3 separate regions of the Homo sapiens genome follow, and all the other regions are linked to region 1. Evidence: fine-mapped expression QTL. A gene starts in region 1. Each other region holds a variant in brackets. All regions are shown on one strand. Distances are from middle to middle. Region 1 holds the start of PROK2 (prokineticin 2). Region 2 has its middle 65 kb from the start of PROK2. Region 3 has its middle 12 kb from the start of EIF4E3.

Region 1 (8,389 bases):
TTCTGGTATAAAGAATGCTGTACTAGAAAAAATACAAAGGAAATTACACATTATTATTTATAATAGCAATTACTAATATAATTCAAAGTTCATTATGCTCATTAAGGAGTCCAAGCCATGAATGATTCATTTCCTGTAGAATATAGCACTGCTCACCTGATACCTTGTTGTCTTCAGAAACCAGTGACAGACTTGCACTGTCTGTCCCCTTGAAGACAGATTGTCATGTGGCTTGTTTTGGTCACTAAAAAGTGAGCAAAAGTGACAGGCATGAATTCCAGGCAGAGAAAGCTGGTGTACAACCCTCTGGCTGCACCCAACTATGTTAGTTTCCTGTGTCTGCCATAATGAAATCACCACAACTGGGTGGCTTAAAACAATAGAAACTTATTCTTTCGTGGTTCTGGAGGCTAAAAGTCCAAAACCAAGGGGCTGACAAGGCCGTGCTCCCTGTGAAGGATCTGGGGAAGAATCCTTCCTTGCTCTTTCAGATCCTGATGGCTGCTGGCAATCCTTGGTGTTCCTTGCCTTGTAGAAGCATTGCTCCAATCTCTGCCCCCATCTTCACTTGATGTTCTCCCGTGTGTGTGGGGGGGGTGGGGTGGGGGGAGTCTAGCCTGTGTCTCTGTATCCAGCTCTCCCTCCCATTTCTCTTATGAAGACACCAGCCATTGAATTTAGAACCCACCCTAATATAGCATGACCTCATCTTAAGTTGATTACGTCTGCAAAAACCCTATTTCCAAATAAGGTCACGTCCACAGGTACCAGGGCTTAGGCCTTGAAAATAACTTGCTAGGGGTCACAGTATAGGCCACTACACTGGCAATCATGAAGCACATGTTGAAATGGAGCCTTATCAGTCAGCCTGAGTCCCAAATTGACTGCCGTGAGACAGGCCTGTGTCTCCCAGCTCACTTCATTTCAGTCACGTGGCCCCCAAGTAAAGAGACAGGCTGAATCATCTGCACCAGGTAAAGCTTCCATCTCTCTTGCTTTTTGGTGACTACCTTTAACGGATTCATATACATGACATGAGTCTGTACTGTATATGATCTTCTCGTAACTGTCTCTGGACTGTCCTTCATGGGACATATTCCTGTTGCTGGTCACTTACTGAATGCCTGCCATATGCCTATTATCGTGCTGTGTGCCAAGAGGGATGCATAGAAAATTAGACACAAGGATCCTAATCATGAAAAGTGTACAATCTAATATAGTGGGCAGGACAGAAAAGACTTATATCAGCATTGGCTGAAATTGTCAGGGGAGACCAAATAATAAGGCTTAATAAGAGGTAACCCTAACAGAGCTCCCAGTCTGTTCCAGGCACTGTGATAAGCATTTTGCAGGTATTATTAAATTCCATAGGGGTTGTACCCCATGAGGTTGGTATTTTATAACCATTTTACAAGACCGGAAACAGAGGCTTCAAAAGGTTGTGTAACTTGCCCAGTGGTCACACAGGATTCCAATCCTGATCAGCCTGTCTCACAAACATTGGGTTCTATAGACGCTCCTAGATTGCATTTTCGTTTAAGCTGAGCCTTGATGGTCTGCTGGAATATGGTAGGCTACACTTTACACACACAAGGCTCATTTCACCTAATACAGTTATGCCTGGGCAGAAGTGATCATGTGGCAATATCAACAGGTTACAGTAATAGAAAAGAATCAATAAACTACTGTTTCATTTCTATGTCATTGTTGCTAAGTTGTCCCAACTACCTTTTTTAATGGACTAATCCAAACTCTTTTTTTTTTTCATTTTTCCCTTTATAACAATTGAAGTCAGACTTCATTTTTCAAACTTGGCCTCAGATACAAAGATGACATATCAAGAGCCTTCATTTCTCTCCTAAAGCATTAAAGCAATTAAAATTTCCAAAAGAACATGAAACTAAACAACCCTATTTTTAAGTGTTTCCAAACTTATTTCTTTTTTTTAAACTTGTTTCAAAACAGCCTTATGAGGACTGTTTTCCAAACAGCTGTGTAAGAAGCCAGCCACTTTTGAAATCTGATTTTTCCTGTGTAGACATATCATATTTTCTATGCTTGAAGAAGCAGGGAATACCCAAGCTGGCATTCAATAGTAGCGAATATGAAATAGACCATTAAAAGAAAGTCATAGGAATGTTAAAATCCATGTTGACTGGTTTTTACATTTACCCGGCAGCATTCCCGAGCTAGCGTTGGCATGGAGACTGGAAAAGGAAACTTTCCACAAGTCTGTCACTTGCTACTGTTTCTACTTACTCCACTGTGAGTCCAATTTTAACATTTTTTTAAGTTGAAAAAAGGGTTTGACTCCTTTTGTGTTTTCTGTTCAAGGCGTTTTTTAAACATGAGAACACGTGTGAAAAAGGTTTTTAAAAATCAGCCAAAGATTGGGGTTTCCAAATATTCAGCTGTTTAACATTCAGATAATTGCCTGCCTTCCCCCCGCTATCCCCCACATTTCGTCTGAATGCTTTGGCACGGGGGAGCCCCACAGTCTGAAAGTAACTCTGTCCCAACTCTCCTTACTGCATTTATTAAAGAGGCTGAAAGACGCATCTGCTTTTCAATAGTTTGCGGTTCTTAAGAGACCAGGAAAGCCAGAGGTTCTGACTATTCAGGAAGAAAGTTGGGTTTCCCAAAACGGGCAAGCAAGTTCGGTGTGGTCACATCTAGGTATTCTTGACGTCATTTTTGTTGAGGGAAACAGGCTGCAGTTTTTGGAGCCAGGCTAGGATGAGAGATGGAGGGCAAATCTGTCACTTATTCTTTCCTGGTGTGCCTGGAACCCACTAGACACTCAATTCATGTTTACGTGAATGAAGGAATCACAATAACGCCCTATCGCATCTGTAAAACCGAAGGGTGATTTTCCTGGGCTGGAAAGTTTAAGAAAGAAGAGAGAGCTGCGTACCTAGGGCTTAAGGGGCCTCAGGCTGGCACTCGAAACCAGGCGTTCTCATTTCCCTTTGGCATCACCCTGAACGGCTGTGCCTGGAGCTGGCGCGGGGCTGAAGAGGGGAGGAAATACATGTGAGGAAAATCAGAGGAGAGGGTCGGGAACAGATGTGGGCATAAAGGGAAGGCCTCTGACTTGAAATAAACAAATAGGAGTCCCGCAGCTGGAAGGACAAATCCTTTCACGTCGCGGGTGATGTGGGATTGGGGCGATTTTGCTCTCCCTTTGTTCTTTCCCCTGCCTTCCACGTTTCCAGGGTATTTGATTGATGTCTGTCTTCTCTGTTAAGTTATTCCACCGTGAGGAGAGAGCCGGTGGCAGTACCTGGCACGCAGCGGGCGCCCAGTATAGACCTGCTGAACAAACGAATGGATTCAGGGGCTGCTGTGTCCCCCTCACCCACCCCCCGCCCCCTATGTGTCCACAGCGCCCCGCACGTAGTAGGCGACCCCTAAACATCTGTACAGCAAATGATTTGCAAGTTTTCGGCGCTGAGCACGTGGAGCTTTGGAAACCAGGACAGCAAATGAGTGTCTCGGAGACCACAAAAGCGGTTCCGGCGCGTGCGAAAGGCGGTGGCTGGGCGACGGCGGAGGGAACGGCGCAGAGCGGGGCGCCCCGCCGGGAGCGCTGCCTGCGTGGCGCCCGAGGCGGGGGCGCGGGGGGCCGCGCATAGCACGTGCTCGTCTGGGAGCCGGCCGGGCCGAGGCGGGCGCGCGTGTGCGCGTGGGGCGTGGGGTGTGTGCCCGCGCCGTGCCCCCCGCGTGTGCTGCCGGGCGGGCGCCGGCGTGAGTCACGGCGGGGCTAGCCTTTATAACGGCCCGGAGGCTCGCGGGAGCCGCCGCGCCCGTCCGCCCGCCGCTCCGCGCTCCACCCAGCGCACCCGGGCCCCGCGCCCCCAACTGCCTCCGGCGGCCGCCCAGTCCCGAGGGCGCCATGAGGAGCCTGTGCTGCGCCCCACTCCTGCTCCTCTTGCTGCTGCCGCCGCTGCTGCTCACGCCCCGCGCTGGGGACGCCGCCGTGATCACCGGGGTAAGCGGCCCGGGCGCACCTGTCTGCCCCTGATGCGCGCCTGGGATGTGCCCAGGGGGCTTGGGACGGGGACCCTGAAGGGCAGGCTAGAGGCAAAGGGAGGGTCGCCCTGGGCGGGGACACCTGCCCCTGTCGCCCCTTGGTGCACTTGGGAAAATACCCAGATCCAAAAGCAGCAGACGGCTGGGGACACTGGGCGCGTCCTGGAAGAAACAGTGACAAGGATGTCGCCCACCACCTTTATTACCACCTTCTCCCGCTTACTTCTCCCTCATCACCCACGGCCTCACTCCTCGCATTTTTCTTCTGTTAGGCTGAAAGAAGTTTCTCTCTGAGTCTTCTCAAGTACTTTTGGAGGCTCTCCAACCTCGAACCTTAAAATTTGACGGCCCCTTCCTGAAATGCAAAGGACCAAGACGAATTCCCCAAGTGCCCAGAGTCTTAATCCTACAGTCAAAGAGTTTGCTCCCCGATGCGTCCTCCGCAGAAACCCTTTGAAATCGCTTGGTCCAGGGCCATGTGAGCGCTTTGAAAAGCAATTGTGGGAGCTTCCTTCTGGGTTCCGGGGCTTTCCCCCGCGCTCAGGGTCTTGAGGTATCCCCATAAAAGTTTTAAATTTCTAATTCCTGGCAAAGCACCTCCAGTGCTCCAGCATAATGATGGAGTAGGTTGCTGTGTAGATGTTTAAACTTAGAGACGATGTTTTCATCTTTTCTGTAAGTAGGAACTAGTTCAGTTCTCTCCCACTCTCAACAATTTTGTGTGGATCTGAAAAAATTGGGTTTGCAGTACAATACTAAATAGTCTAGTTTACATTAACAAGGCAAAACTGCTATCATTTCCTGGTTGTTCAACTTCTTTACTGTTTTTTAAGTGAGGAATTATTTCACACCTTCATTAAATTACTTCAAATATTTAAGTGCACATAATGGGATTTAAATAAAACGTCTATGTTTGAAATGTTGATACATAGATAATATCATTTGACTTTAAAGGAAGTATCTTTGTCTTGAAAAAATCAAGCTCTATTTTCTCTATATTAGTTATTAGGTTTATAGAATTTTGAAAGTCCTTTTGCTATGACAGCATTTGTATATATCCAACAGATATTTAACTGTAAGCTCTGTGATATTTATTAGAAAAGAGATTTTTTCAAAAAATTACTTGCATAGCTTTGCCAGTCCATGTGGTTGAGAAAAACTTTTTGCAGGTCTTTCTAATACATGAGAATTGAAACATGATTGGATTTTTTTCTCCCTCTTCTCCTGCTGGCTCATTTAAAGTTTCTCCTAATCCTCTGAGCCCAAGATCCCTTTGCAATATAAGTATCTTTTTGTTCCATTCACAGGACAACACTATCTGAATAGATTTGCAATGGGTTAAGGATGAAGGGCATTAGGAAACAGCTGTCTAATTAAAAATATATAAACCTATGCAACTCTTTGTAAATTTTCCAAGAACTGAAGCTTTTGTTACAAAATAAAATTTTATCACATTGGCTGTCTATCTGTTAGAGAGGCTTAGACTGGGCTTATTATATAGTTATGTGTGCTGTTTTTGTTGTTGTTATTTTAACTCAGTGTTACAAAAAGAGAATTTTAAAAATGTCTCTAAAGCAACAGGGCAATAAAATGTAGTTATGTCTCCATGACAGGAACCATCTGGATTCAAATGAAAAACTCAGTAACTTATCAAGATACATTGTGTATAGCATGTTAAACATCCAGGTGATTGAATTTTAAAAGATTTTGGCTGGATTTTTGATTGGTTCATAAAAAAAAGCTCATGGGGCCTCAAAATTCGAGGTATTGAGCATCTGTTGAAATAAAATGCTGGCTAAAACTTTCACCTGACATCCACAGTTTTTTGGGTAGTGTATGTAGGTATTTTGAAATTGATTTATATGCCCACATAGATTTGTTAAAACTATATTGTAAAAGATCATTGACTAGACATCTTATTTATGGGATGTAATGGCTACATATACATGATTTCTGGCATGCAGATAAAAATTGGAAAATTGAAACATTTACATATTGTCCTATAAAATCCAAACACCTCAAGGTGAAATTTTTAGCTTTTATCCAGATACTTTGTTTAAATAGACTGAGAAATAAATTCTAATGAGGGAAGTAAATGAACTTTAAAGCAAAATAGTTGGTTACTTTTAATGAGAAATAATGTTAAGAATGTACCCATATTTTTATATCTTGAGAAGTTATGACTGTCCTCAAAACTAAGAATTTTGAAGGACTGTTTTAGTTGTTTCCACTAATTGTACATTTAAATTTGTGCCTAGATGATAGAGGTTTTAGTTTCTTACATATATAGTACAGGATGTTTTTATCTTATCACTACCAAAACAGATTACTGCCCACGGTTCAAACAAAGCATTCTATTTTTTGTTGGTTCTAGGAAAGAATAATAGTTCTTCAGATCCATTTTCATGCAAATAGATTTAGATTTTATTATTTATTTCTATTTACTAGAGTATGGAAATTCCTCCATAGTTGATTGTTTCATTGTATGTATTTACAACTTTTATATTGAAAGCAGGTGACTTGAGTAATTACTATTGACAATTGCACCTGTTACTTGCATTTCTTAATTTGATGGATCTTACAGGATTGTTAGCTGATTTTGTAATGTACATATATGTTTATGCTAAGCCAGTAATTTGCTCTTTGCAGCTTATTCACCTGAAGGAAGAGTAACATAAGGCAAGCATCTTGGTCTGTCCACTTTCAAACTATGAGACTTCTTTAAAGAGAAAATGGTGAAAAAGCAAGTCAGTGGTGTGAGAAACGTCAAGTCTCTTGAACCAAAATGCAAATATTTGAAGGGGAAAATGAGCACTTCTGAAATTTACATCAGTGCCTTTATGGGTCTGGAGTGTTTCATGCCAGATTTAGAGACTATTTAAATCTCTTTTTTTAAATTGGCCCCAGTGTATTCTGCAGTTAATAGTCACAAAATCTTGTGATTCCATTTATGTAGTTCCTAATGGCCATGTGTAGTATAAGAGTAATATAGTCTTGTTCTTCAAGTTCAAAGCCAATTCAGCCATAAAGCACTGGAAAAAGAGAGCTGATTTCATTTAAAAAAAAATCTTATGTTTATTTAAGATTTTCATAATCCAGGGGCTAGAATTTAGCCCACTTTCGAAAAATGAGAAATAGCTATTCTGATCAGATTTTATAATAGCTATATACAAGTAAATGAAGGTTATCATTTAAAAAATATACCTGATTATTAAAGTCCAAGTGTTTAGATATTTAAAGGGCATTTCACTGCTAATTTTAGGTTTCCTTAGCCTGAGTCTTTCCTGTTATCTATATTTATCTGTTTGTTTATTACATTTCAGGCTTGTGACAAGGACTCCCAATGTGGTGGAGGCATGTGCTGTGCTGTCAGTATCTGGGTCAAGAGCATAAGGATTTGCACACCTATGGGCAAACTGGGAGACAGCTGCCATCCACTGACTCGTAAAGTTAGTATATATATATTTGTATTCATGGTGGTTCTACTGTGGTAACTCTGAGCAGGGTCTGTATGACATGAAGGACTGGGTAACGTGCTCGACAAACAAAATGAATATTGGACATTAGCAAGGATAACAGTGTAAAACTACCCCCTCTCCTCTCCCCTTTCATTTCAAAGAATTGTATCCTCTGTCTTTCTTATTCCAGTGATAGTTTTCATGTTACTGCTCTCATGGTGTTAGAAGCATTTTACCAATATAATTTGCAACACATGAATTTGCTTAAAAGTTATTTAGAACAAAAATATATATTATACTCTAGTATGCATCTTTGCAGAAATCTGAGTATAGAAGTTCTTAAAAAGACTGCTTTTAATATTAGATCTACTGATAAGGCAGAAGTAAGGAAGCTCTGTGTTTTGGGATTTTTTAGAAAATCGATTATACAATTACTCTTGTATGTTAGTTTAAATATTCTATATTTTGACTCTACCTACAGGACACATTTTTCAAAATTTTAGAGATCGATGATATTTAATTTTCCAATTTGCTTTATTATCTGTCAGCTCAATATCACAGTGACCTAAATAACACTTTTGAAAAGTTATTAACAGTAGTGGCATGATCATAGGGTGGCAGGATTGGACAGGGTTTGAGAGATTGTATCTCCAAGGGTTGCAGACCCACCTGTCTACAGGGGTCAGGAAGGTTTATATTACATGAGGAAGCGGGTGGGTGGGAGGCAGAAGGCATGTGGAGCTGGAGGTTCTTGGCCTTCTGGTTGAAAACCTTTGAAACACAGTGTGGTCTCAACAGAGCACCCCAGGAATGCCAGGTTGCATTGCCTTCCTCTGGTCCCACCTCCGCATTTTTCCCATTGGTAAAGTGCCTCCAGTGGCGTTGCAACAAGTCCTAGG
Region 2 (8,675 bases), 65 kb before region 1:
TGCAGCTTTGGCAGAAGTGCCGACTCTTCAAAGGATGGGTGCATTGACATTTCACAACTCTGCATGCTTTCTGATGATTCCTGATAATGCTATCTGCCAAATAGCAGATATTGCTCTCCACGACTAAAAAATGAGATTGCTCAAATGTCCCTCTAGACATCATAGACAGTTTTCATATTCATTCATTTATTCGCGTATTCATCATTCAGCAAATATTTACTGAACACATATTAAGGCACATGCTAGGTTCATGGCTACCGAGGAGGGCAGTAGGAAATGGATCAGTAAAACATGAATGCTCTCTAAAAGCTGAGTTGAAGACACAAAAGCTACTCTTTCTAAGATACCCACTGTGTGCCAGGCATGTGCTAAATAATCTCCATATATTGTCTCCTTTATTCTTCACTATCACTATTGGATATTAGATGAGGCAGCTGAAGATCTGAATGTGAAAGCTTCTTGCTCAAGACCATACAGCTAGTGAGAAACAGAATGGGGATTCCATTCCCAATCTCTGAGATACCAGTGCCTAGTTCTTTCCTCTGTGCTGCACTGCCTCCAAAATAAGGATCAGATTGGAGGTAAGCAGTGACCTTGGACAAAATGCCACCGAAGATCAATAGGGACCAATTCCAGTCATGGGATTGCCGACCACTGCTGGAAGGTGGAAGCCATCCTCGTGGATCCTTCTAACACCTATCCCCTACAATAGATGAAAAGTGAAAATTCAGTTGATTCTAAGGTACTCATGAACCGTAACATGAGATTATTGAATGTTTGGAATCTACTTTCCATTTCTATAAGATGGCACATGCCCAACAGACACAGCCTTCAGCATTTTTCCATTTTACCATGCCTGGCACCAAGCATCTGACCTGCTGCGTTCCATATGGAACAGGATTCTGAGAGCAGACCAGGTGGTACGGTGGTGGGCCTCCCTCTTTGGAATTGGATGTTAGCACTGTCTGTCATTCTAGGGACTGAGAAGTCAACCTGGGAATGATAAGAAGCTAGGGAAAACTTTTCTCCTCCGTATGGGAGACCTTGATCTCTCGGCGGGTGGCTTAGCTGTATCCTTGGCTTGTGGAGGTCTCCTGGGAAGCAGGTAAGTCCCCGAGGATAAGCTCAGGACAGTAGGCTCTGGAAGTGGCAATTCCTGGAGCAGATGTGAGTTATCCTTTCCAACTCCCAAGTCTTCAATAAACTCATTAGAAGAGAAAAAGTAGAAACGGCAAGCATAAATGTTTAATCATCTAGGTTTATATCCTTTCACTGACTAGCTGTGTGCTGCTTCTCAGCTCATTTAACTTCTCTGAGCCTGTGATTTCTTATTTGTAAAATGGGGACAACAATAGTACCTAACTCATAGTATTATTTTAATTACTTTTCCAGACACAGGCTGGCTGTAAACTTAAGAGAATTATCCTAGACATTAAAAGCTATATAATCGTACTTAAAAAATAAATCTTTCCCCAGAGAAGTTCCAATTAGATGTTGATGGGACAGAGTATTTTCATTCTTTTTCTTTTTCCTTTTACTGTTTTTTTTTTCCATTGAAGGAAGTAGAAAAGCATTAGAGCTTATTAATGGAATGATTATTACAAAGGTGCCATAAAGAAATGGGGTTAAGGCCGGGCGCGGTGGCTCACGCCTGTAATGCCAGCACTTTGGGAGGCCGAGGCGGGCGGATCACGAGGTCAGGAGATCGAGACCATCCCGGCTAAAACGGTGAAACCCCGTCTCTACTAAAAATACAAAAAATTAGCCGGGCGTAGTGGCGGGCGCCTGTAGTCCCAGCTACTTGGGAGGCTGAGGCAGGAGAATGGCGTGAACCCGGGAGGCGGAGCTTGCAGTGAGCCGAGATCCCGCCACTGCACTCCAGCCTGGGCGACAGAGCGAGACTCCGTCTCAAAAAAAAAAAAAAAAAAAAAAAAGAAATGGGGTTAAAATGAATGTATAATGATAACACCACTTTGGTTAAACTTATTTATTACTGAACATATTTAAAAAGAAAAATGGATAGTAATTTAATTCCATTTGTAACACTTTCATGAAATTTCCATTAAATGGTGAAGAGTGCATATTTTGAAACATGCTGTTCTATTTGTCTAGGAGAAGAAATTTCATTGCTTTGGAAGCGAGAGGCTGCTGAATAGAATTTCCTCTCATAAATAAGGCATTGTCCTAGAAATCTGGTCTTCTTTATCCCACTATGTTCAGTTGTTCAGCTACTCTGCTAATTGTTGGAATTGGCAGTTTTCAAAGAAATCAACATGAAGAGCTCTGCAAAGTAAAATTGGGCATTTGGTTATAAAATCTGGTATAAAGCCATTACAGTGCACTATTGGGAAAATCAGCGCAGCTTCCAACTTCATGAGCCATTAACAAAGCGTAGACTCTAAACACACAGACATATCTCTTGACAAAGCATAATGTTATAGGTGATTTTCTGGCTGATTTCAATTAAGTGCCTATATTTTTAAATTATTTTAAAAATCACAAATAATTTTTAAGTGATTTGAGGCACTAAATGCTAAGGTTGAAATCTCAGCTTACTAGCTCTGTGACCAAAGTACTTAAGCTTCTTGAAGCTTCAGTTCCTTTTCAACTCTATAAAATGTGAATAAGAATACTTACCTCATGGCTTGAAGTGAGGATTTAGTGAAGTAATATGTAAAGTACCTAGCACACTTCTCAAAAATCTTTGGTATTATTTTCTTAGTTGTCATTATTATTGTAGTTGCAAATGATAGAAACGCAACTCAAATTGGTTTCAAAAATAACAATGATAACATATATTGGGGGCTTACTGTGTGCCACTTGCTGGGATAAACACTTCATCCTAATTATTTTAGTTAACCAAAAGGAATTTTTAAAATTACATAAGTGAAAAACCTAGGTTTGGTCTGGCTCCAGGGAATGCCAGACCCAGATGCTCAAATGAAGTCCTCAGCAGTTTATCTCTTTTCACCTTTCCATTCTCTTCTCTATGCTGGCTTCAGGCTCAGTCAGTCAGGGTCTCTCCATTAGCTATCAGCAATTCCAGGCTTTCATATGAATTCTATAATTCATATGGAACCACAAAAGACCACGGGAAGAATTAGGCTCCTCTAACCCAACAGTTCCAGCAAAAGGACCACATGGCTTTTGATTGAATAGTGCCTTTCTCTGACTAATAACCATGACCGGGAGGATGAACCATTCTGATGAACCTGGCCTGGGTCACTTGCCCACGCATTGAGGATTAAGTATAGGGATTGTAGCACTCGGTTTTCAATTGTTCTACTACAGTTTCTGAAAAGCACACAGAACATCATGAATAAGAAAAGACAAAACTCATGGACAACATCAACATCTTTAGCAAAACTAAGAGATTTTAGAAAACCTCAAACCCCAAGGTAGCAGAACTGGCATGAAATCAACCATGGTGCAACAGGAAGGAAAGCAGAATGCTGAAATTTCCTACAAACTGCAAATCTCCCA[A/G]TGACCAAACACAGGAGAGGGTTGCACCTTGAGTGAGAACTGCTGTGAGCTAATTTGAGAACAAAGAGCAAAATGAGGAGCCTGGGAAAGGAAGTCCTTATACCAAATTATATTTCTATAAATGGAATGGCCTGCAAGTCATGTCACCTCAGTAGAAATGAACACCACAGTACCTGGATTTTCTTCAATAGAAGAAAATCCTTCTTAAAGGACCTGGCACTCCTTAGAGAAATGGCGAGTCTGAAGCAAAGAAGATACTTGGTGAGCCGGAGGCGGCTTGTTCTACCAGAGAGCAAGTAAATTTCCAGGATTAGTAGATTTGTGTCAAAATAACTTAGAAGGCAGTATGAAGGGGCTTCTTCTGGTTACAGATGGGTCAACTGAGCATCAAAAAGAATAACGATTAAGAAGAACAAGAAATAAAAGGCATTTGAATTGGAAAGGAAGAAGTAAAATTGTCCCTGTTTGCAGATGACATGAAGTTATATATAGAAAACCCTAAAGACTCCATTAGAAAATCCTTTAGAACTATTAATAATAAATAAATTCAGTAAAGTAGCAGGACACAAAACCAACATATCAAAATCAGTTGCATATCTATACACTAACAATGAGCTACCTGAAAAGGAAATTAGGAAAATAATCGTACTAACAATAGCACCAAAAAAGTAAAATACTGGAATAAACTTAACTAAGGGGGTGAAAGACTTGAATGCTGAAAACTACAAAACATTGATGAAAGAAGTTAAACAAGACACAAACAAATGGAAAGACATCCATGTTCATCATTTAGAAGACTTAATATAAAAGTCCCCCTTTATCCATGGGGGATACATTCCAAGGCCTCTGGTGGATGCCTCATACCACAGATAGTACTGAAACCTAAATATACTATGTTTTTTAATCTCATAACTGAGATGACTGCTAAGTGATTAATGGGTGGGTGGCATATATAAGATGGATATGCTGGACAAAGGGATGATTCATGTCTCAGGTAGGACAGAGCAACATAACATGAGATTTCATCACACTGCTCAGAATGGCACAAAATTGAAAACTAATGAATTATTTCTGTAATTTTTCATTGAATATTTTCAGAATGTGGTTGACTGTGGATAACTGAAACCATAGGAAGCAAACCTGCAGACAATTGTTGGGGGAACTACTGTATTGTTAAAATGTTCATACTTTCCAAAGTGATCTACAAATTCAATACAATATCAAAATCCTAATGACATATTTTACAAAAACAGAATTCTATAATTCATATGGAACCATAAAAGACCACAGGAAGGAATATTCAAAATCAATCTTGGGAAAGAAGACCAAAGCTGGAAGCATAATACTTCCCAATTTCAGAATATATTGCAAAGCTACAGTAATGAAAACAGTATAGTATATATGTCTATACTGGCATAAAGACAGACATATGGACCAATAGAGCAAATAGCCCAGAAATAAATCCGTGCATAATACATGGTCAACTGGTCTTCAATAAGGGTATCAAGATATACAATGGGGAAAGGACAGTCTCTAATAAATGATGGGAAACTGGCTATCCATCTGCTAAAGAATGAAATTGGATCCTTATACCATATACAATGGTTATTCATAATAGCCAAGATATGGAAAAAACTAAATGTTCATGAGAAAATTAATAGTGAAATGTGGTATATCCACACAGTGGAATATTATTCAAAGTTAAAAAAGAAGAAATTTCTACTATATGTGACAACATAGCTGAACTTTATGAGAATATTATGCTAAGTAAAGCAGTCACAGAAAGCAACATATTGCATGATTCCACATATTTGAAGTACCTAAAGCAGTCAAATTTATGGAATCACACAGTGGCTCATGCCTGTAATCCCAGCTATCCAGGAGTCTGAGCCAGGAAGATCGCTTGAGCCCAGAAGTTCAAGACCAGCCTGGGCAACACAATGAGACTCCCATCTCAAAAAACTAAAATTTAAAAAAGCGGAATGGTGGTTGACAGGAGCTGGAGCTCTGGGACAGAGGCAACAACAGGCATAAAGTTCCAGTCAAGCAAGATGAATAAGCTCTAGAGATCTACTGTGTAACATGGTGCCCCCAGTCAACAATAATGTATTGAACACTTACAAATTTGTGGGTTTTTTTACAAATTTTTAATTTGTAAATGAGAAATCTCATGTTGTTTTCTTACCACAATAAAATTTAATAAAATAATGATTATAGATAAAATGTATTTAATAAATGAAATGTGTGACTTCATAAAGATACTAAAAAAAGAGAAAGCCTGAAAAGACATTATACGAGATGGCCATTAAACCACTCCTTACTTTTTAGTTGGTCATTAAAGGAAAAAAATTAAACATTTTGCCTTTTCCAGTAGGAACTATATGACAGGATAGCCAACTAGCCCACCTGTTGAAGAGAATCTCTACTTTACAAAAGAACACCAGTTAATGAACGTAGAAGAAACGATAAAGGTTGAAAACCTGATCTTGCAAAACCTAATGAAATTATTGATTTAGGCAAGATTTATATATTAAGTGAGTGGGATACAGAACAAGACATAGGACCAAAGTAACATTATATAAATTCCTTTCTGATCATGTGTCAGTTATTTATTGCTGAGTAACAAATCATTCAAAGAATCTAGTGGCTAAAAACAATAATCATTTCTTATTCTTTATTACTCTGTGGGTCAGCTGGTTGGTTCTTCTGTCTGGGCCAAATTTATTGGTCTCTACGGACAGCTGGTGGCCCAGCTGGGGCTGATGGATCCCAGATGACCTCACTCAAATGTCTGGCAGTTAGCAGAGATGGCTGGATGGCTGAGGCCTCCCTTCACATGGTCTGTTGAGATGATCTAGGATGGCTTGACTCACATCTCTGGGAACTCATCTGGACTAGCTGGGGCCATGCTCCATGTGGTGTCTCATCCTCCAGTAGGCTGGCCTGAGCTCCTTCACGTGGTGGTCTCGAGGTTTCAATAGCAAAAGAGGGAAAGCCCTGGTACACAAGCATTTTCCGAGCCTCTGATTGCATGATGTTTATTAGTATCCTATTGGCTGAACAAAGTTGCATAGTGATGCCCAGATTCAAGAGATGGAGAAATGGACTCATTCTCTAGTTAGTATGTCTAGTAGAATTTTCTTCAATGAAAGAAATATTTCATATCTGCCCTGTCTAAGTGGTAGCCACTAGCCACATGGGGCTATTGAGCACTTGAAATGTGGCTAATACAACTGAGGAACTGAATTTTTCATTTTAATTTATTTAAGCTTAAATTTAAATGGGTACATGTGGCTGGTAGCTACCACACTGAGTAGTGTAGTTCTAGATACAGAATCCCTTATGGTATATTCTAGCCAAAAATGCTTGTCTTGAATCCATCAGTCCTTTAGATCTAACCTATCATTTGCAGGAGATGGAGGGGTACAGGAATCAGCTACATGGCACAGTAAGGAAGCAATCAGACAAATCTAGAAGGTGAGATATTCCACAGGAAAACCAGTCCAGTGTCCTCAACAAGCCAATGTCATCAAAAAGGAAATCAGGATAGACTGGGTAGAAATAAGGACTATATCAGCCAGATTTGATTCTTGAGAGGATTTCTGGAGAGGACAAGCCAGTTATAAAGGTCTTTTTAGCTTAATTGGTGAAATTTGAATATGGTTTAGCTATTCAATGACATAAAAATATACTGAGTGGGCCAGACACAGTGGCTCGGCTGAGGTGGACAGATCACTTGAGCCCAGGAATTCAAGACCAGCCTGGGCAACATAGTGATGCCCTGTCTCTACAAAAAATACAACAACAACAACAACAACAAAATTAGCCCAGTGTGACAGTAGTTGTAGTCCTAGTTACCCAAGACACTGAGGTGGGAGGATCACCTGAGCCCAGGAGGTAGAGGCTGCAGTGAGCAGTGTTTGCGCTACCGTACTCCAGCCTGGGCGGCAGAGTGAGACCCTGTCTCAAAAAAAAAGTACTGAAGTGGAAAGGTAAAGATCATTGGCTGAAAATGTAAGTTTTAAGACAGTAAGTGGAGTGTCATCTCACACTGGTAAAGCAGAATACATACTAATATGTGTGTATATAAATACAAATATATGTACAAATACATAAAGATTCGGAAGCATATGGACGAAGATCTAACATATGGTGATTCTGGGTGATGGTAAGGTGAAGTTTTTGTTTGTGTTTCCTAATTTTCTATAAATATAAATGCACTGCTTCTATACTAGTGAAGAGGTTATTCAATATAAAAGAGATAAAGACGCTACTAAGTGTCTCGGAGGTGCCAGAGACAAGCAGCTATTTTACAGTGTTTATGCGCGTGCGTTTGTTTAGGAAATGCTCTATCCCGATAACGTTGCAGATAATACGTGCGGACAAGGGGAGACCTATGAGGCTCAGCAGCTGCTGAAAGGGTTTAGCTAATCTCGAGGATCTGGTAAGTGGATCACTTCCTTGTGACACCACAGAAGCTCCAGCCATCAATTTGGATTAGTCAGTCAGCATATCCCATTGGGCAGCATGTTCTAGAGTGTTCTAGTATGAATCATTCATGGAGGCTTCTGGTTATGTTACTTGGTTTCCCTCAGAAATAATGGCCCCAGGGATTGAATGCTGTGTAACAGAGAAAGTGAATAAATTGGTGCAGGCCCTGCCAGGTGTCAAACAAATAGGAATATATCACAGGAAAAGTGCTCCATCTATAATTAATGACAACATTTTTAAGCTTTACCAGAAATTGATAATACAGTGGTTTCTTTTAATGCATTTTCCCTTTAGTAATGTGTACATATTTTAAAGTAGGTCTAGCATTAAATATACATCAAACTCTTCTTATAGAAAAATGTAATCGTTGAATAGAAAAATATTATATTTATAAATATCTCATTGTTACATTTTATGCAATTATTCACTCTGGGTGTTCAGTGTAGAAGTTTCAGGAATATAATACTTGTCACAGAAAGCATATTCAAGACTATCAAGTAAAAAAGCAAACTTATGACTGCCAATTTTTTTGAACTTTTGGCATAATTTCCAAATTGCTACTGTCATAATAAAAATCTAGATTGCCACTAGTTTGTCTTGGAATTACATGGCTATCTTTTAAAATAAGCATATATTGTCATTTCTGAGTTACAAACCCATTTAGGTAGCTTAATCTTTCTAGCAGTCAACTGAATAATTAA
Region 3 (8,675 bases), 47 kb after region 1:
ATTTTCTAGTTTCTTAACACAGAAGCTGAGTCCATCTATTTGAGATCTTTATTCGGGCATTTGTGTTATAAATTTTCCCCTAAGAACTGTTTTGGTAGAATTCCATGAATTTGATAGGTGTTTTTTTATATTCATTCATTTCAGAATACTTCCTAATGTCCTTTTGATTTCTTTTTTGATCCATGAGTTATAGAGAAGTGTGTTATTTAGTTTATAAGTATTTGGGGGATTCCCAGAGATCTTGCTATTATTGATTTCTAATTAAATTCCACTGTATCAGAGAACATACTTGTATGACTTGAGTTCTGTTAAGTTTATCAAGACTTTTATGACCCAGAATATGGTCTATCTTGGTAAACATTCTGTGTACCCTTGAAAAGAATGTGTTTTGTATGGTTGTTGGGTGAAATGTTTTGTAAATGTCAGTTGGGTCAAGATGGTTGATAGTGTTGTTGAAATCTTTTATGTTCTTACTAAATTTCTGTCTACTTGTTCTAGCAGTTATTGAGAGATGAGTGTTGAAATCTCTGGCTATAATTCTGGATTTGTATTTCTCCTTGCACTTCTAACAGTTTTTGTTTCATGTATCTTGGGGCTCTGTTATCAGGAGTAAAAAATATTTAGAATTATTATATCCTCTTGATGAACTGACTCATTTATATTACTAATCGACCCTCTTCATTCCAAATAATATTCTTTGCTCCGGAATTTACTTAGTGTGATATAAATATAGCCTCTCCAGCTTTCTTTTGATTAGAATTAGCACAATGTACCTTCTTTTTTTACTTTAAAAATTATTTCATTGTAGGATATGCTCATAACATCAAGCTAAGGATCAATGTAACTCCTACTTTTGCTTACAATCTATGCCTGGGATTCCAGGATGTGTGTGTGTGTGTGTGTGTGCGCGTGCATGTGCATGTGCATGGATGTGTTTTTTTGTTTTTATTGTATTTTATTTTATTTGAGATGGAGTCTCACCCTGTTGCCCAGGCCAGAGTGCAGTGGTGCAGTCACATCCACTGCAACTTCTGCCTCCTGGTTTCAAGCCATTCTCCTGGCTCAGCCTCCCAAGTAGCTGGGACTATAGGTGAATGCCACCACACCCGGCTAATTTTTTGCATTTTTAGTAGAGACAGGGTTTCACCATGTTAGCCAGGATGGTCTTGATCTCCTGACGTTGTGATCCACCCACCTCAGCCTCCCATAGTACTGGGATTACAGGCGTGAGCCACCGCGGCCGGCTGGGATGTGTGGTTTTTAATGAATTCTTACAATTCTTTTGTTCCTTTAACAGGTTTTCTCATATATTCCTGGACAATAGTAGGTACTCAGTAAATATTTGGTTGTTTCGTTTTGTTGTTTTTCGAGACAGGGTCTTGCTCTATCGTCCAGGCTGGAGTGCAGTGGCACGATCTCAGCTCATTGTAACCTCTGCCTCCTGGGTTCAGGTGTCCTCCCACTTTAGCCTCCCAAGTAGCTGGGACTACAGGTGCACACCACCATGCCCGGCTAATTTTTGTATTTTTTGTGGAAATGGTGTTTTGCCATGTTGCCCAGGCTGGTCGCAAACTCCTGGACTCAAACGATCCACCTGCCTTGGCCTCCCAAAGTGCTGGGATTGCAGGCAGGAGCCACCATGACTGGCCAATATCTGTTAAATGGAATGTTTGAGTCTACTACATGCAGAAAGAAAAATGCACACTCTGTCCTTTAGTTTTAATCTATTGTTGCCTTTATATTTAAAGTGCATTTCTTGTAGGCAGCCTTATTGTTGGTTCTTGCTTTTATATTCAACCAAATAATGGCTGAAATTCAATTGGGAATATTTAAACTGTACATTTAATGCGAATATTAATATGGTAAGATTTAAATCTGTCATCTTGCTTTTTGTTTTCTATTTGTCTTAACTGCTCTTTGCTTCCTTTTTCCTATTTTTATGCTTTCTTTTAGATTAATTAAATATTATTTATAATTTCTTTTTATCTCTTTTGTTGGATTATTAGTTATAATTCTTTGCTTTGTTATTTTAGTGCTTTATTTAGGATTCACAGTGTACATTTTTAACTTATCACAGTCTACCTTCAAGTGATATTATACCTCTTCACATACACTATAACAATTTACAGTGGCATATTCTCATTTCTCCCTCCCAACTTCTGTGCTGTTATTGTCATAGATTTTTCTTTTATTCATGTTATAAAGCCCATAGTACATTGTTATTATTTTTATTTAAACAGTCATTATTTTTTAAAGAGATTTTAAAAATACCAAAATTATGTTATATTTTACCCATGTGGTTATCATTTCCAGTGCCCTTTGTTTCTTTCTGTACATCTACGTTCCCTTCTGGCATCATGTTCCTTCTTCTTGAAGGAATTCCCATGACATTTCTTTTTTTTTTCAGACAGAGTCTCACTCTGTCACCCAGGCTAGAGTGTAGTGGTGCCATCACGGCTCACCGCAGCCTCAATCTCCCAGGCTCAGGTGATCCTTCCACCTCAGCCTCTTGAGTAGCTGGGACTACAGCCATGCGCCACCACACCTGGTTAATTTTTTAATTTTTTGGTAGAGACAGGGTTTCACCATGTTGCCCAGACTGGTCTGGGGCACATAGCCTCAGGTGATCCTCTGGCCTTGGCCTCCCAAAGTACTGGGATTACAAGCATGAGCAACTACTCCCAGCCTGTGACATTTCTTATGGTGTTGATTTACTGGTAGTGGATACTTTCAGCTCTTGCATATCTGAAAACATCTCTATTTCTCTCTTTTTGTTTTTGTTTCACTGATTTTCTCTATTATTTTTCTGTTTTGATTTTATTAATTTTTTATTTTATTAATTTCTGCTCTTTATTTTTCTCTTCCTTATGCTTGCTTTGGGTTTACTTTGCTCTTCTTTTCCTAGTTTCTTAATGTAGGAATTTAGGCTGTTAATTTGAAACCTTTCCTCTTTTGTAATGTAAGCATTTAGTGCTGTAAGTTTCCCTCTCAGTAGTGCTTTAGCTGCATCTGACATGCTTTAATATGTTGTATTTTCATTTTCATTCAGGTCTATGTATCTTTGAATTTTCTTTGAGACTTCCTTTTTAACCCATATATATATATATATATATATATATATACTGTTCAATTTTCAGGCATTTGGAAATTTTCTGGTTCTTTTTCTGGTATTGATTTATTTTACATTTGTTAAGTTTTGTTTTATGGTTCAGAATGTAATCTATCTTGGTGAATATTCCATGAACTCTTGAAAAAAAAATTGTGTTCTGCTAAAGTGCTATATATGACAAATAGATCCTGCTGTCTGATTTGTTGTTCATTTCTTGTATATCCTTGCTGATGTTCTGTCTAGCAGTTCTATCCATTGCTGAGAGTGGGCTGTTGAAGTTCCCAGCTATAATTTTCTATTGCCTATCTCCTTTCAGGTCTGTCAAGTTTTGCTTCATGTATTTTGAGCCTCTCTTGTTCGGTGCACATATATGTAGGATCATTATGTCTTCCTGGAGGGTTGATTCTTTTATAATTATGTAATGTCCTTCTCTGTCTCTGTTAACTTTACTCTAAAATCTGCTTTATTTGATATTTATATAGCTACTCTTAACTTTGTGGGGTTATTGTTACATGATATCTCTTTTTTCATTTTTTTTCCCTTTCAACCTACCCACATTGTTGTATTTGAAGTGAGTTTTTTATAAATAGCATTTTGTTGCGTCACGTTTTTTTGCTGTTGTGTATTTGCTTGTTATTTAATCCACTCTACCTGGTGGGGGTAAAAGTCTAAGATTCTCACTTGGCCTTGCTGGCTTAGGTAGGGGAAGGATCACAGTTTTTTCTGTTGCATTTGGCTGGCATAGTTAGTTTTCTGTCTTGCAAGGCTGCTCCTTTGGCTAGAGAAACTAGACTCTTCTTGTCTGCGCTTGTTAGCATTTTCAGGTTGCCAGCTTCTCCATCTCTGAGTCTAAGAGATATGAGACAAAAAGAAAACCCAGGGAAGTTATTGCTGTGTTGTTCTTTAACTACTGAGGTCCCTAACTGGTATTCCACTTTTTGGCCTCTTTCAGAGTCTTCTTATGTTTATTTTATATAATGTTCAGGGTTTTTCACTATACTTCGTGGGAGGAATTGAGAAAGCATGTCTTATTCCATCTTTCTGGCAGAGAATCTTCTCCATTTTTGAATAGATATTTCACTGAGTATAGAATTCTAGGTTGACAGGTTTTCTTCTTTCAGTACTTTAAAGAGATTGTTCTGTTATCATCTTAGTTGTATGATTTCCTATGAAAAAAATCTCTGTTGTTGTTGTTTTTTGTTTGTTTGTTTGTTTGTTTGTTTTTTGGTAGAGATGAGAGTTCTTGCTATGCTACCCAGGCCGGTCTTGAACTCCTGGCCTCAAGCAATCCCCCTGCCTTAGCCTCCCCAAGTGCTGGGTTTACAGATGTGAGCCACCACACCCAGCCTAATTCTTATTTTGTTCCTCTGTATAAAATGTGTCTTTTTTTCTGCACTGTAGCAGTTTGATTATGCCCTTGCCCTGCCTTGGTGTGATTTTCTTCATGTTTTTTGTGATTGGAGTTCATTGAGATTCTTGAATCCAAGGGTTTATTCCTCTTAAGCAGTCACTCTCTAAAAGCAGGTGGCTCAACCCACCTTACAGTAAAAATTAGACTGCTATTAATTTGTAGTTGAACTCTGATATTTTCCAGGTTCTAAATTGTTTATTTAATAGGTGGTCATATGTTTTGTACACCAGATATTCAAGCACCTTCTGCCACAGTGCTCTGTTTTGAACATTTAGGGCATAACTTGAATATTTTCATAAGTCAAAGACTCACCTCATTTTCCAGATCATAGAGATGACTTCGGAGAAGTGAAACTTTTCCTAAAGTTTCCTGAAGTTGCAACTGTTAGGAGCACAGGCAGACTTAGGGTTTGAACTCCATACCTCTTGCTGGGTGATGATGGGAATGTTATTTAACCATTTTGAGCCTCCGGTGTGTAAAGTGGGAGATGATAATCATACTTGTTAATACCTCATCAGGTTGATATGTGAATTAGATGAGAATAGTTAAGGATTCACAAAATGGTAGCTATTGTTGCTGTTGATATTTTTCTTTAATAGACTTTCTTTTTTTAGAGCAGTTTCAGGTTCACAGCAAAATTGAGTGGAGGGTACAAGGAGTTTTCCATTTATCCTATCCTCA[T/C]TTATGCATAGCCTTCTCCATTATCAACATGCCACACCAGATGGGTGCATTTTTTATAATCAAGGAGCCTATATTGACACATCATTATCAACCAAAGTCCATAGTTTACATTAGGGCTCACTCTCGGATTTGTATATTCTATGGGTTTTGATGAGTGTCCAATGACATGTATCCACCATTATAGTATCATTCAGAATAGTTTTATTTTCATAAAAATCTTTGCTCCGCCTATTCATTCCTTCCTCTCCTACACCTGAACCCCTGACAACCCCTGATCCTTTAACTGTCTCCATAGTTTTGCCTTTTCTGCAATGTTATGTTAGTTGGAATCATACAGTATGTGGCTTTTCAGATTGGCTTCTTCACTTAGTAATATGCATTAAAGTTTCCCCAATGTATTTTCATGGTGTAATAGCTCATTGCTTTTTAGCAGTGAATGATATTCCATTGTCTGGATGTACCATAGTTTACTGATCTACTGACTGCTAAAGGACATCTTGTCTCCTTTCAAGTTATGGCATTTATGAATGTAGCTGCCATAACCATCTCTGTGTGGGTTTTTGTGTGGACGTAAATTTTCAGCTCAATTGGGTAAATACCAAGGAGTATAATTGCTGGATCATATGGTAAGAGTATGTTTAGTTTTGTAATAAACTGCCAAACTGTCTTTCAAAGTGGCTGTACCATTTTGCATTCTTACTAGCATTGAGCGAGAGTTCCTGTTGCTCCACATCCTCACCAGCATTTGGTGTTACCAACGTTTCGGGATTTAGACATTCTAATAGGTGTATAGTGGTATCTCATTGTTTTAATTTGCAGTCTCCAGTGACATATGATATTAAGCATCTTTTCTTGGTACCTATTTGCCATCTGTATATCATCAGCAAGATGTTTGCTCAGGTCTTTTGTCCAATTTTAAAATCATGGTGTTCATTTTCTTATTGTTGAATTAAAAAATTTCTTTGTAGATTTTGGAGCTATTGGTATTTTTATTTGAATTACTATTATCTTAAGTGCTTGGACAAGAGTTTCATTAAGACCTCAGCATTTTAACCAGTAAAACATGAAAATGTTTTCTTCTCATTTTTTGGAGGGAGGTGGATAAATGATCTTCACTTGAAAAAAAAAAAATGAAAAGATGTTCTGGGTTACTTTGATCCAGAAAGAACTTCAGGCTGCCTCTTAAGTAGAGCTGTGACTTCATGGGCCCTTCATGCTCTAATAACCTCCCCACAAAATTAGTTTGTGCCATGTGTTTTTCAACAATTGCCTTATTAAGGAGTGGGAAGTACCTGCTTAGCACAGTATTGCGTTTCTTTGTTAGGAATCTGTGGATTCACAAGGTGCTCTGCTGTTATCAGGGTGGTGACATTACACCTATTAGCAAGTCTCCTCAACTTGCAGAGAACTGCTCTGGCCTGGATCATTCTGTAGAAAAACTAGTTACTAATGCTATTGAAGAAAAATATGTCCCATGATAGATGGAGGTATTATATTATCTGATTTCCATTCTCCCACCCTTCACTATGCATCAATAGATTTATATCATAGGATTCATTTTCGTTTTATGTCTTTTTATTTACGCACCAATTCTTTTGCAAGTAATTTTAATTCTTCGTTTTATGAGAATGAGGCTCTGTGCCTGTGTACTCCTATGTAAAATAAAGGAAATTATTGTTTTTAATGCAGATTTGAAAAAAATATAATGGATTTCAGCTACACCAATCTCTCCCCATTTAGATGAGATGAACACCTAGTTAGATGGGGAACGTCATTCCTCATATAATTTGAATACATCCTGTTTCCATGACAACTTGTACTTACCAGCTTGCCTGGTAAAAGAAGTGCTTGAATTCTTCCTCTGATAAAAGATTTGACCAACCACTGGGGCCCCAGTTTCTTAATTCCAATAATTTCATTCCAGCCTGGGGCCAGTTTTCTTTTTAACATGGGATGATGTTGAGGATTAGAAACCAAAAAACCATTTTAGAGGTGAATTCACCTCCAAAATAAAAGGAGAGGACTCATAGGCCAAATACTAATGAGCACGAGAAATGAAGATACTTGTGCAGGTCATAGTCATTTTCTGATATCTTCCAGTTAAATTGAATCAACAGAGATGATGCAACAACTTATTAAGATGCTATTTGATTTGACAAAGAATGATTCAGTTATTCATTTCCATCTGGACGTTATAATCAGTTGGCTTGTTTTTTTCACTGCTAATTTATATCTTGCCTTTATGGGTGGCTTGTGCCCTCTTACTGCTGAATTTCAATTCTAATAAGGAGTTTGGTTTTATTAATGATTTTCCCTCAGAATGAAAAATAGGAAATTATTTGCATCATTAACTGTGCTTTTGCAAACTATGAAAAACATGATACTGCATTTAATTGACAAATTTATGTTTCATGTGTTATAAAATATTTTAGTCCAATAAGGCAAGCAGACATGACCCTTAGGCATTTTAGGAATGATAGGGACTCATCCCAAATTTAGGATAATTCACAGTGTATTTCTGAGTGACCTGGTAGGTTTTGAAAGGACGAAAGTGACTCAGCTATCTCCAAGATCATTGTCAACCACAGTATATATTTGTGACATCAAATACTTGTATAAAGTCATCTGAGGGATACCATGTTCATCATAGCCTCCATGAGAGCTCCTCTTTTGTAATGATGACCTAGTATGATCAATATGTGCATCTTTTTAGCCTCTGGGAATAAGATACTGTCTTACCACAAACACTAAGAAAATTTAAAGCAAATACCATAAGGTGCAACCTGCCATTATGTAGATAATATGTAACTAATAAGAATGAACAGGAAAAGAGTGAAAAATTAACAGGATCTTTCTGTATTGTGAGTATGCAATTCCTGCTGATGGTAAAACAAAAGAGATTCAGTAACTGAAGGGGTCTCATTGGCCTAAACACTGCAAGTGTCCTTCTGTTTCTGAATGGTGCATTTTGCACAGTAGTTAGAGTTCTAAAAATGTCATGTAATTATGATTTTTTTTAGAAAACAAATAATGCAGCTTCCTTTCAAGAATTGCTTTATTTTCCTTTACTAATTGTTCATCAATTGATAATGGCTTCTCAAACTTTAGTGTACTTAGCTCTTAAGAAGTAAATGACTTATAAAGTATTTCAATCTACACTTTAATGAATGGTTTTAAATCACAGAAGGATTCATTATTCAGATATTTATTGACTTCCCAGTACATGAGCAGTACTTTATAATAGTCTCTGAGGACCTCAAAGGTGAGCTCCCCACCCCTCAGGAAGCTTGGGTTAAATATGGTACAGGGAAAGATGGTACAGGAGGTCTTTTTGCAGCCTGACTCATAACCTCCTAATATTTTGCCAAATCAGCTTATATTTTCTGTATCAAGATTTCTTATGTCATAAATATGATTATTTCAGCTTAAAATAAAGCTTCGGAAAGCACAATACACTTCCTCAGAGAACTGGCT

The links. PIP is the estimated chance that this variant, and not a neighbour inherited with it, causes the effect.
Region 2: its variant is the best candidate, but not a certain one, in a credible set for the expression of PROK2 in whole blood (INTERVAL, PIP 0.89).
Region 3: its variant is the best candidate, but not a certain one, in a credible set for the expression of PROK2 in whole blood (INTERVAL, PIP 0.65).

What each region holds. Positions count from the first base shown.
Region 1 is chr3:71,780,559-71,788,947 of GRCh38, reverse strand. It overlaps PROK2 (prokineticin 2), which reads left to right and starts at 3,800. Exons shown (of 4, transcript NM_001126128.2): 1 at 3,800-3,991; 2 at 7,356-7,481. The coding sequence starts at 3,896. LOC105377156 (a long non-coding RNA gene) reads right to left here and starts at 3,558. Exons shown (of 4, transcript NR_199161.1): 1 at 3,425-3,558; 2 at 3,201-3,312; 3 at 2,915-3,011; 4 at 2,521-2,731.
Region 2 is chr3:71,845,631-71,854,305 of GRCh38, reverse strand. No RefSeq gene overlaps it. Among named protein-coding and RNA genes, the nearest start is that of PROK2, 65 kb to the right of the region's middle. The variant A/G (reference allele first, on the strand shown) is at 3,484.
Region 3 is chr3:71,733,426-71,742,100 of GRCh38, reverse strand. It overlaps a transcript of EIF4E3 not described here. Among named protein-coding and RNA genes, the nearest start is that of EIF4E3, 12 kb to the right of the region's middle. The variant T/C (reference allele first, on the strand shown) is at 5,202.